Regions from separate parts of the Homo sapiens genome. Here region 2 is linked to region 1. Evidence: fine-mapped expression QTL. A gene starts in region 1. The other region holds a variant in brackets. All regions are shown on one strand. Distances are between the middles of the regions.

What was found. PIP is the estimated chance that this variant, and not a neighbour inherited with it, causes the effect. A credible set is the group of variants that fine-mapping cannot tell apart.
Region 2: its variant is the best candidate, but not a certain one, in a credible set for the expression of NFIC in whole blood (TOPMed, PIP 0.66).

The regions. Positions count from the first base shown.
Region 1 is chr19:3,363,381-3,368,743 of GRCh38, forward strand. NFIC (nuclear factor I C) reads left to right here and starts at 3,203. Exons shown (of 11, transcript NM_001245002.2): 1 at 3,203-3,286. The coding sequence starts at 3,257. RefSeq lists silencers at 2,832-2,921, 3,372-3,521, 3,812-4,211.
Region 2 is chr19:3,400,278-3,405,640 of GRCh38, forward strand. All of the region lies in intron 2 of NFIC (nuclear factor I C), which reads left to right. Among named protein-coding and RNA genes, the nearest start is that of NFIC, 36 kb to the left of the region's middle. The variant A/G (reference allele first, on the strand shown) is at 2,391.

The DNA of each region.
Region 1 (5,363 bases):
CCAGCCTCAGCCTCCCGAGTAGCTGACATTACAGGCACCCTCGCCCATGCCCGGCTAATTTTTGTAATTTTAGTAGAGACGGGGTTTCGCCATGTTGGCCAGGCTGATTTTAAACTCCTGACCTCAAGTGATCTGCCTGCCTCGGCCTCCCAAAGTGTTGGGATTACAGGCGTGAGCCACTACAACCGGCCAAAGGAGATATGTGTGTGTGTGGGTGTGTGTGCATGTGTGTGTATGTAAAGGATACTATGTATATTTGTATAAATACATGTGTACTCTTTAAAACCCTAAATGAGATCTTGAATTTCCTTGCTGGGTCTACAGCAGTGGGGTCTCAGCCAGGGTTGATTCTGTTCCCATGGGACACTTAGCCATGTCTAAGGACATTTGTGGTTGTCACGACTGGGGGGTGCCCCTGGCATGGAGTGGGTGGAGGCCATGGACTCTGCTCAGCACCCTGCAGGGCCCAGGACGGCCCCAACCCAGAGAGCGATCCAGCCCCAGTGTCCACAGTGCCAAGGGGGAGAGCTCTCCAGCTTTCTGTCCCCCCACTTGTCTCTTGGGGACATAACCAGTTGGGAGCCACTGGTTTTACTCAGCTGCATAGTGTCCCAGCCTGTGTTGGGATTACTAAACCGGTCCCCCACAGATGGACAGCATGGCTGCCTCCAAATTGTGGGCATTAGTTTTATAGGTGGCAGTCAACTCTTTTGTGCTCCTGTATCTGGGACAGTTACAGAGATGCCGAAGAGTGAAATAACTGTAGAGAGAGTGCTTTGAAAAAAAAAAAAAATGAGCCAGATTGTGCTCGAAAGTGCCAGGAGCTAAATCATGCACCCATCTTCCGGGCCCTCCACATGCAGGTCCCAATCTACCAATTGCCTTTTTAAAGAAACTATGACGTACAGTTCCCTGTTGTAACCACGGGCAGGTATTTGCTGACTTGCCTACAACCTGGAGGGTTATGAGCTGGCGTCGCCCCATTTCACAGAGGGAGAGCCGAGGTGCAGAGAGACGAAGCTGCTGACTGGAGGAGACATAGACCCAAGCAGCGAGCCCACGCGGCAATTTAGGGAACCAACTGTGTGTGCTGCGGGGGTCCCTTGCCACCCAAACTGGGATATAGGCTGCTGTTCGTACACTTGCAGAAGTTTCTCCCTGCAGCTACCGCCACCAATAATATTCACACAGCCTTCCCACATGCTATGTAAAGACTCCAACCTTCCCCACCTCCCAAGATGCATCCTGTTACTATAGCCATTTTACAGATGAGGAAACCGAGGTTCCAAGAGGGGCAGTCTCTGCTCTCTAAACTTCACCTTCCAAAGGATTCTAAGCTGCTGAATGAAGGCTGCAGGCAGGGTGGTCTGTACAGGGGAGGGAGGGTGGAAGGCACGGGGTCTGGAAGTCTAGGAGGAGTGTCTGAAGTCAACTGCAACTTTTAAATATCTGTGAATTTTAGATTTCACCCTGTATGTGTCCCTAGCGTGTTTTAATAAAATAAATTGCTTCACGTTATATTGGTATGTGGATTTCCAGATACACTTCTCACCATTTAATTCAAATGCTCCCCACAGCTGCACAGTGGGTTTAAAATACACAGACACACACATTTATGGACCGTTCGTGATGTACTAAGCACTGTTTGAATAATGTCACCGTCATGCAGAGGGGAGCCTGTGGGGGGCCTAGGGAACCTACGCTGCAGGAATTCTGCTCCCTCCTAGTTTACCTGTCAGACCCTGGGCAAGTGGCTTCCGTTCTCTGGGCCTCAGTTTCCTCTCCTGTAATGCCTGAGGATAATGGGTGCTGGTATCTTCTGCGCCCCTGGGCCTGGGGCACCTGCCCCAGCTTGGTGAGAGGGTATCATTTGTCCTTGGGAAGCTCAGAGAGATGAGGTGAAATGGCCAAGCTTTCTAAGAATGTGTCTTTAGTGAACATTTGACCCAAGGTCAAGGCTCTGCTAAGGTCATTGTCCTTATCCCCAGCAATCCCACAGGATGGGCATCTTTAAGCCACTTTATAGGGGAGAACCCTTGGGATGGGAATGAGAGACACAGCAGCCTCTGAGCTAGCCTGGGAGGATCCAGGGAGTGAACCGGGGGAGGGTTGGGGCCCTGTCATCAGATGCCCTGGGGGCTCAGACGGAGGCAGGCCAGGTCTCTGCCCTGTTACGTCTAGAAGGAGAACAGAATGTGGGCTCCAGGTCCAGATGGCCTGGCTCCAAGCCACACTTGCCATACCTCAGTCTTGAGATCTGTGAAAAGGGCACACCCCTGAGGCAGGTGGAAATTATTGGATACCCAGGGGGAGGCTGCAAGGGTTTATCTGGCCAGCTGGAGATCCCGCCTGGACACCGTCCTCCTGGGGTGCTGGAGAGACACACAGGCGAGGCCACCCCTCCCCTGCCCCTTGGGTGCTGGGTGAAGAGAGCAAATTCTGGAGCCTCCCGTGTTAGCCTGGGCCCTTCTGGCCAAGGAAGGGACAGCTGCACACAAGCCCCTCTAGCTGGGGACCCGCAGCCCCTGCCTGGCTCTGGGGGGAGAAGGGAGCCAGGGTGCTGTGGGACCAGCTCACCGTGCACCCAGGGTCGTACATCTTTAAGGGGAAAGAGGCGCGCTGGCCGGCCTCTGCGCACGTCACTTCTTCATTCCTTCCCTCCCCCCTGGCTCTTTCCTCCAACTTCCCGGCCAGCTCGGGGGTGATGGGGGGGTGGGGAGGGGGGGCCTTAAAAATCCACCCCTGGCCCCTCAATGTCCAGAAACAACCCTGTCCCCCCTCTCCGCTTGATCCGAATTGGGGTCGCCCTGCAGTCCTGGGGTCCTGGTCTAGTGCCCTGGGGCATTGCGTAAATACGGGAGGAGCGGGGGGGTCCTGAGACGTCGGGGGAGGCTCTCCTTTCTCGCTCGCGCCCTTTTTTCCCTCGTTTCTTTGAAAGTTGGGTGTTGAGAAGTGGGAGGTTCGGGGTGGGAGGGGGAGGGTGTCAGAGGGTAGAGAGAGAGACAGAGAGACAGAGACGGGGGAGAGAGGAAGAGAGAGACGGAGGGAGAGAGGGACAGAGAGCGAGGCGGGCGGCGCGAGAGAGGGAGAGCAGGAGGGAGGAGGAGGGAGACCGAGGGAGGAGGCGGCGAGGAGAGCGCGCCGGCCGCGGGGCGGGGGGGGGGGTTGGGGGGGGCGGGGGGGTGGTTTGGAAAAATGACTCAGTAAGTTCAGCGCGCCCGCTCCGGCCGGCCCTGCGCCTCCCGCCGCGCCCGGGATGTATTCGTCCCCGCTCTGCCTCACCCAGGTACGGTCCTCGCCCGGCCCCCCGCCGGCGCCCCCGCGCCCCCCGCATCCCAGCCCCGGAGTTTTGAAGCAGGAGGAGGCGGGACGAAAAAGGCGCGCGTCCCTCCCGCCATCCCTGCCCGGGATGCCCCCCGCGCCGAGGGCTGGGGTCCGGTGGGGGGATGGGTCAGGCTGGGGTACCCCCCCCACACCCTTACCTACCGCGGACCCCCTACGCGGGACTCCCGCCCAGCACCCCCAACCCCGACTCTCGGGACCTCTCCCGGATGTGGGGCTTGGTCTGCAGATTTGCGTCCCCCCCCCACACACCGACGCACTCCGCACCCCCGCCCCGACACTCGGAAAGGTCGGGGTGGGGGCTGGCCCCCCTCCAGCAAGGGCTCTGCGGGAAGCCCCCCGCCTGCCTCTGAGAGGAATCTAGGGGGTCGTGATTGGACCCTGGGTCTCCCCAGCTGGAGAGAAAGGGACCTCTCATGTGTTTTCCCCGTGTCCCCCCACCAAGGTTGTGCGGGCCGCCCTGGCCCTCGGTCGCCTTTCCCTCGTTATTGGCCCACGTGTGCATGGAGGGGGAGGGGGCAGGAGAAGTTGGAGGCCCAGGAGGGGGAAGGGTGCTCCGGCGGCCCGGCTGGGTCCCCCCTCCTTTGCAAGCCCCCCAGCACCGTCCCGGTATTTTCGCTGCATCGATTCTGGATTCTGGATTCTGGATTCTGGAGCCGCCGCCGGGAGGAGCGGGAGGCCCGGCGCTCCGGGTCTGGCCCGGGCACTGCGGCGCTGCGGACGCCCTCGCCAGCCCGGCACCTGCCCCGTCCCCTCCCCCTCCCCCTCCCCCTCCCGTAGCCTCTCACCCCTGGCCGCACTCCCAGACTGCCCCGGGGCCGAGCCTTGTGCAATGGCCGAGGGGGTGTGTGGGGAGGGGGCGGCTCCCCCCGGGGACTCCTTCCAGCCCAGGCTCCCGGGGACCCCGAGGTCTGCAAGTTCCGTTTTCTAGACCGCTGCTTTCCTCCTTACGCAGTGTGTCTTTAGGCTGGAGAGGTTCTGGCCTCAGTTTCCCCTGAAGTGAGGTGCGGCTAAGGCCGGTTCTGGAGAGGGGACAGTATGGCGGGCAAACTGTAAAGTCCCGGCACGTGGGGGGTGCGATTCCAGCGAGGGCCAGGCCCGTCTTAAGAAGCACTGTGTGGGGAGTATATGAGTCCCCGGCTTCCGCTCCAGGGCATGGTGCAGTGAGGGACCCCCCACGCCAGGCATGCTCCTTGGTAGGGTCTTTCTCACCGGCCCCCTGCAGCCGACAGGGAATGTGGGAGCTGGTGCTGAGGGGGTCTGAGGTCTGTCCTACCTGTGATCCCCTGAGTGACCTTGGGTAAGTCCCTGTCCCAGCCTCAGTTTCCCTTTCTGAGCAGCTTTGGGGGGGGGGTTCCCGAAGAAGGCATCTCTTTGAAGTTCTCCAAGAACAACTAGGGTTCGAGTGGGCACGCTGTGTGACCTCGGGCAGCCTTTGAAGTCTCTGGGCTTGTGGGGTGACTGAGGTGTCCCCGCTCTGTCCTCACCAGCTGGAAGGAGCCATTTGGGAGGGCTGAGCGGAGGGGAGGCTGTTCCAGGCTGGGGAGGTTGGAAGGCTGCCTGTGCACCCTGGAATTCCCCCATCAGGGCTGGTTGGGAGACATCCTGGTTGCTGGGGTGGGTTGGGGGTTAGTAAGAACCCCAGTCCAGGCTTTGCCTCAGAGAATTGCTAACTCGGCCTCAGTTTCTCCAGGAACAGGGCAAGGACCAGCCAGGAGGGCTGTCTGTGGAAACCAAAAAACGGAGAGGCTAAAAACTAAAAACTATCCAGGGGTGCTGCGTGCAAGAGACAGAGATGAGAAGACAGAGACAGGCAGAGAGACAGAGGCAGAGAGCTCCCAGGCCAGAGTGGGGACAGCGAGTCCCAAGTGCAGGGGGCTCCCTCCTCCCCTGCGATTCTCCTCTCTGCCCCGCCCTCCACCCCAGCCCTGTAGTGGAGCTGGGGACCCCCTTTCCAGTTTGTCTTCAGCCTGAATGTAATCCCCACTGTTCCCCCAAGGCCCAGCCTGGTCTGGGGTAGC
Region 2 (5,363 bases), 37 kb after region 1:
ATCCTGGCTAACATGGTGAAACCCCGTCTCTACTAAAAATACAAAAAAAATTAGCCAGGCGTGATGGCAGGTGCCTGTTGTCCCAGATCCTCAGGAGGCTGAGGCAGGAGAATGGTGTGAACCTGGGAGGCGGAGCTTGCAGTGAGCCGAGATCACGCCACTGCACTCCAGCCTGGGTGACAGAGTGAGACTCTGTCTCAGAAAAAAAAAAATTCTGCCCTCGTGGAACTCACAGTTTGGTTCAGGCGATGGGCAAAGAACAAGAAATAAATGTCAGTTTAGGCTTAGTGCGGTGGCTCACGCCTGTCATCCCAGCACTGTGGGGGGCCGAGGCGGGCAGATCACCTGAGGTCAGGAGTTCAAGACCAGCCTGGCCAACATGGTGAAACCCCGTTCCTACTAAAAATACAAAACATTAGCCAGGCATAGCGGTATGCGCCTGTAATCCAGCCACTGGCAGGGGCTGAGGCAGGAGAATCGCTTGAACCCGGAAGGCGGAGGTTGCAGTGAGCCGAGATTGTACCACTACACTCCAGCTGGGGCCACAGAGCGAGACTCCGTCTCAAAAAATAATAATAATAAAAATAAAAAGAAATAAATGTCAGTTTAGCGATAAGGACTATCAAGAAAAATAAAGAAGGCCAAAGGAAAAGAGGCTGATGGGCTGTGCTGGGGAGGTCCCTGAAAGGCTGTCTGAGGACCTGACATTTGAGCTGAGACCTGAGAAGTGAGGAGGAACCAGTTATATGAAGAACTGGGGGAAGGCGTTCCAGGCAGAGGGCACAGCCCGTGCAAAGGCCCTGCGGCAGGACACACCTGGCACTTTGGAGGAACAGTGAGGAGGCCTGTGTGGCTGCAGCAGAGTGAGGAGAGGAAGAGAAGGAGGAGGGGAGGGCAGTTTGTGCAAGGCCTGGTGGGCAGTAGGAAGGACTTGGGCTTTGACCCCAAGGCAGGTGGGAGCCATAGAGGGCTATGGGCAGAGGAGGGACCAGCCCTGACTCAGGTGCTCACAGGCACCCTCTGCCTGCTGCAGGGAGGACAGACTGTGGGGGGTGAGGGCAGGAGCTGGGGACCAGGGCAGAGTGGACCGCCCTGGTGCAAGCAGGCGGTAGCAGGGACAGAGGCAGAGGAGGGGGCAGAATCCAGGTCAACTCCGACGGTGTGAGGATTCAGTTGCTCACCTGGGTCGTTTATACCTTATCTGAGGCTGGCCCTTGCTCTCCTTGCCCCGTCTCCTGCCTGCAAGCCGCACCTGCCTGGGCACATGCAGGGAAGGGAGCGGCGCAGCACTGGGCACGCCTGGGAGCTCTCCTGCAATCAGGACTTTGTTAGCGGGCAAGCTGGGATATGGGTCCTGGTGCCCGGGAGGCCCGTGGGGCTCTGGGCTCCTGCCAGGGTCCCAGCCCTAACCCAGGTACGCCACCCACATGGCAGGGTTATTCTCTTTTTTTTTCTCTTTTTTTAGACAGAGTCTCGCTCTGTCACCCAGGCTGGAGTGCAGTGGTGCGATCTCAGCTCACTACAACCTCTGCCTCACAGGTTTAAGAGATTCTCCTGCCTCAGCCTCCTGAGTAGCTGGGACTACAAGTGTGCACCACCTCACCCAGCTAATTTTTGTGTTTTTAGTAGAGACGGAGTTGCACCATGTTGGCCAGGCTGGTCTCAAACTCCTGAACTCAATTGATCCAACCGCCTCGACCTCCCAAAGTTCTAGGATTACAGGTGTGAACCACCGTACCCAGCCTATTCTCATTTATTTTCTTTCTTATTTTTTTTTCTTTTTTTTGAGACGAAGTCTCACTCTGTCACCCAGGCTGAAGTGCAGTGGCACGATCTCAGCTGACTGCAACCTCCGCCTCCAGGGTTCAAGCAATTCTCCTGCCTCAGCCTCCCAAGTAGCTGGGACTACAGGCATGTGCCACTATAGCCAGCTAATTTTTGTATTTTTAGTAGAGATGGGGCTTTGTCATGTTGACGACCAGGCAAGTCTCGAATGCCTGACCTCAGGTGATCCACCCAGCCTCAGCCTCCCACAGTGCTGGGATTACAGGCTGGAGCCACTGCGCCCAGACGGTCCTTCCTTTTCATGCCTCCTCCTTCCACTCCCCCATGTACCATGTCTCCTTGTCTCTCTTTTTCTCTCTGCTCATCCCTCCCTCTCAACTTTCTTTCTACAAATATTTATTGAGCACCTAGTCTGTATCAGGCCTTATTCTAGCCACTGAGGGCACAACAGAGATCTAGACAGACAAAGCCTCTGCCCTCAAGGAGGTGACATTCCACTGGGGAGATGAGCAAACACCCGTGCAGTCACTAAGCAACTAAGCAAATCCATAGGCAATCACTAACTTCCTCTGAAGGAAAGAAAACAGAAGGCTGAGATTGAGGGT[A/G]GCCAGAGGCTGCTTGAGGTGAAGGGGCTCAGCGTAGACCTCTCTGAGAAGGGAGCATTTGAGCTGAGACCAGGAGAGATCTCAAGAGAGAGCAAGCAGTTAGCTGTTTAGACAGAGGGAACAGAATGTGCAAAGGCCCTGAGGCAGGACTGGGCCAGGTGCATTGGAGGAACAGCGAGGAGGCCCCTGTGGCTGGAGCAGAGTGAGTGAGGGGGAGAGAGGGAAGAGGGGAGGGCAGAAAGCGGACAGGACAGGTTGTGCAGGGCCTGTGGTCCTAGTCCTCCACTTTGACTACTCCCCCAAATCTCTTAATGTTCCTCACATTCCTTTCCCTGACAAGCATTTATTTTGCACCTGCTGTATACCAGATCCTATCAGGAGAATCCCAAATATTCATGCAACAAGTTCATATTGGGTGCCTACTGTGTGCCAGGCTCTGCTGGAATAATCACACTCATTTGGCTGCAGGCATTTATTGAGTGCCAGCTGTGTAAAAGCATTTATCGAGCACCACCTGTGTAGCAGGCTCTGGGGAGAGAGGCCACATGAAAGCTTGGGAAGGAGAAAGTTTCCTTCTACCCCCTTTCAGGTTTGTGCCCTCTGGTTTCCAGCCCCCTCCCACATTCAAGGCAACATTTAAACCTCTGGGTTCAAGTTCCGTTGTCCAACTGCGTGGCCGTGAGATCTGCGGCAAGCCCCTTCCTCTCTCGGATCTTCCGTTTCCCCCTTTGTAAAGCAGAACACTCCACAATCTGATGTGTTTACAACTTGACATCTACTTTTTGCAGCAAGGGAAACTGAGGCACAGAGCAGGGCGGAGATGTGTCTACCTCTCCCTCCCCAAGCAAGACTGGCATGGAGTCTATTCTCCTGACCCCACGCCAAAGCCAGGGCGTTTGGTATTTTGTTTTTTCTTGGAGGCCCAGAGAGGGGCAGGGCTTGCCTGAAGCCACACAGCACCGGGCAGGCCTCGGAATTGCGGAGAGCCCTCCCCTGGGCGCCTGCCCGGGCTCCCGCGCCTTCCTCCTGCCTCCTTTGGCTGGGCCGCCAGCCTTGCCTCCCGTCCTCCGGACTCCCCGCGGGCTGCCCAGTTGGAGACGCGCCCCAAGAAATATCAGAAGGAAGGGGAAGCCGGGAGGGGCCTCCGCCTCCTCCCGCCACCCCCCGCCGCGCCCGGCTGCCCCCACCCGGTGCCCGACATTGGCAGAGAGTGTCCTCGGGCGCTTCCGACTGGCCCTGCCTGCTTCGTGTGGCCACTGATCCCTTCCGGAGCCTCTCCATGGGGACGCCCGTGTGTGCGCTCAGCCAGTGGCACATGTGGCTCCCGGGGCTCCCTTCTCCACCCCCCCAGCCCCTGGCCTGCCCCTTTCCCCCCATCCCTTCCCGAACCTCTCCATGGGGACGCGTGCGTGTGCGTTCAGCCCGTGGGCACATGTGGCTCCCAGGGCTCCCCCCGAGGCCTGCCCTTCTCCCCCCCCCGTCACAGCCGCCGAGTCAGGCCTGCCAGGAAGGTGTTGGGGGTGGGGGTGTGGGGAGGCCTCAGCTTGGCTGCTGGGAAGCCAAGAATTTGCTCCAAATGTAAACAGCGAGTTATTTTCAGTCCACTCCCCCCCACCCCGGGTGGCGTTGACACATTTGACATTGGCGGGACCGGGAGGGGGTGGGGGTGAGGGTGTGCGTGCGGGTATTTTTAACCTTGCTCCTCACATCCCTGGAGTGGCTGGTGCCGAGTGGCAGATAATGGGGAGGGGGCGCGGAGGCGTGGGGAGCCCTGGGTGGCCGTGCGCGGGTGGGCGCTTGGCAAGGCCGCCCTGCTGTTGGCACCACGTGTTTAACCCCTCAGAGGCTGCAGAGGGGCTGGGGGAGGCGGCCCAGGGCCCAGTGGTGCCCCAGAGGCTCCCTTGTCACCTTCTCCTGGTGTCCCCCCACCCCCACCCCACCCAGGAGGGCAGGGCCGGGTGCCCGAGGCCGGTGCCAGCCTGCGCCGCCCAGACCTACAAAATGGCCGCCAAGGCCGGAGAAACATCTGGAACAGGGGAAGGGAGAGGCGAGAAAATGGCCGCCAGAGGGATGATGTCATGGGCGGCGTGGCCTCCCAGAGCGTCCCCAGCACGGGGCGAGTCCCTACGCGCAGGCCTCCGAGCAGGGGCCCTGCGGCCTCCAGGGACCTCCAGACCCGCTGCCCAGGCCGGACACCCACAAAGAGTGACACCGGGGTCCCCAGGGGTCCCCAGAGGCGGGCCCGAGACCTGGGGGAGGGCGAGGCCAGCACTGGGCCTCCAGTCCCAACAGCCCGATGCTGGGGACGGTTCCGGGGCGGTGGTGGCCGCTGACCTGACCCGCAGGACACCGAGGCGTCCACCAGCGCCCGGGAGGGCCCGGAGCCAGGCCATGGAGCCGGCGGGGGCCGGGTGGAAAGAAAAAAGAAACTTTTCTTTGAAAGTGATTCCGAAGCAGGTTGGCTCCGGCCCAGGCGGCCCGGCGGCAGGGGAGAGGGAGATGGAAAGTATGGGCCAGACTTAAGGAACGCAGGAAGGACGAGGCCGGGGAGGCCCGGGATGGAGGCCAGCGTCCTGGAGGTCACCCCGTCCACGCCTCTGCCTCTCGGGCCCCCCCAGGTCACATCCAGATTTTCCTCCCTGTCCCTGGGGCGGGCGGGGAGTGCGGAGAACATCTATGGGCTTGTGTTTTTTCCTCTTTTGATTTGTCCAGACAGGCGATGGACAAGGGCTGGGCAGGGGTTTTAGGTCATCTGCACTGTCAGGATGTGGAGGCTCAGAGAGGGAGAGTGCTTTTAGTGAGGTCACACAGCACTGGCAAAACTGACAGCTGCTTCCCTCCTTAGAGCATCTTGGGGAGGAGGAAGTTCTCTATGGAGGATCAGGGTCCGTACTGGAATTCCTTTCTATTTTTATTTAATTTAATTTATTTATTTATTTATTTATTTTTGAGATGGAGTTTCACTCTTGTTGC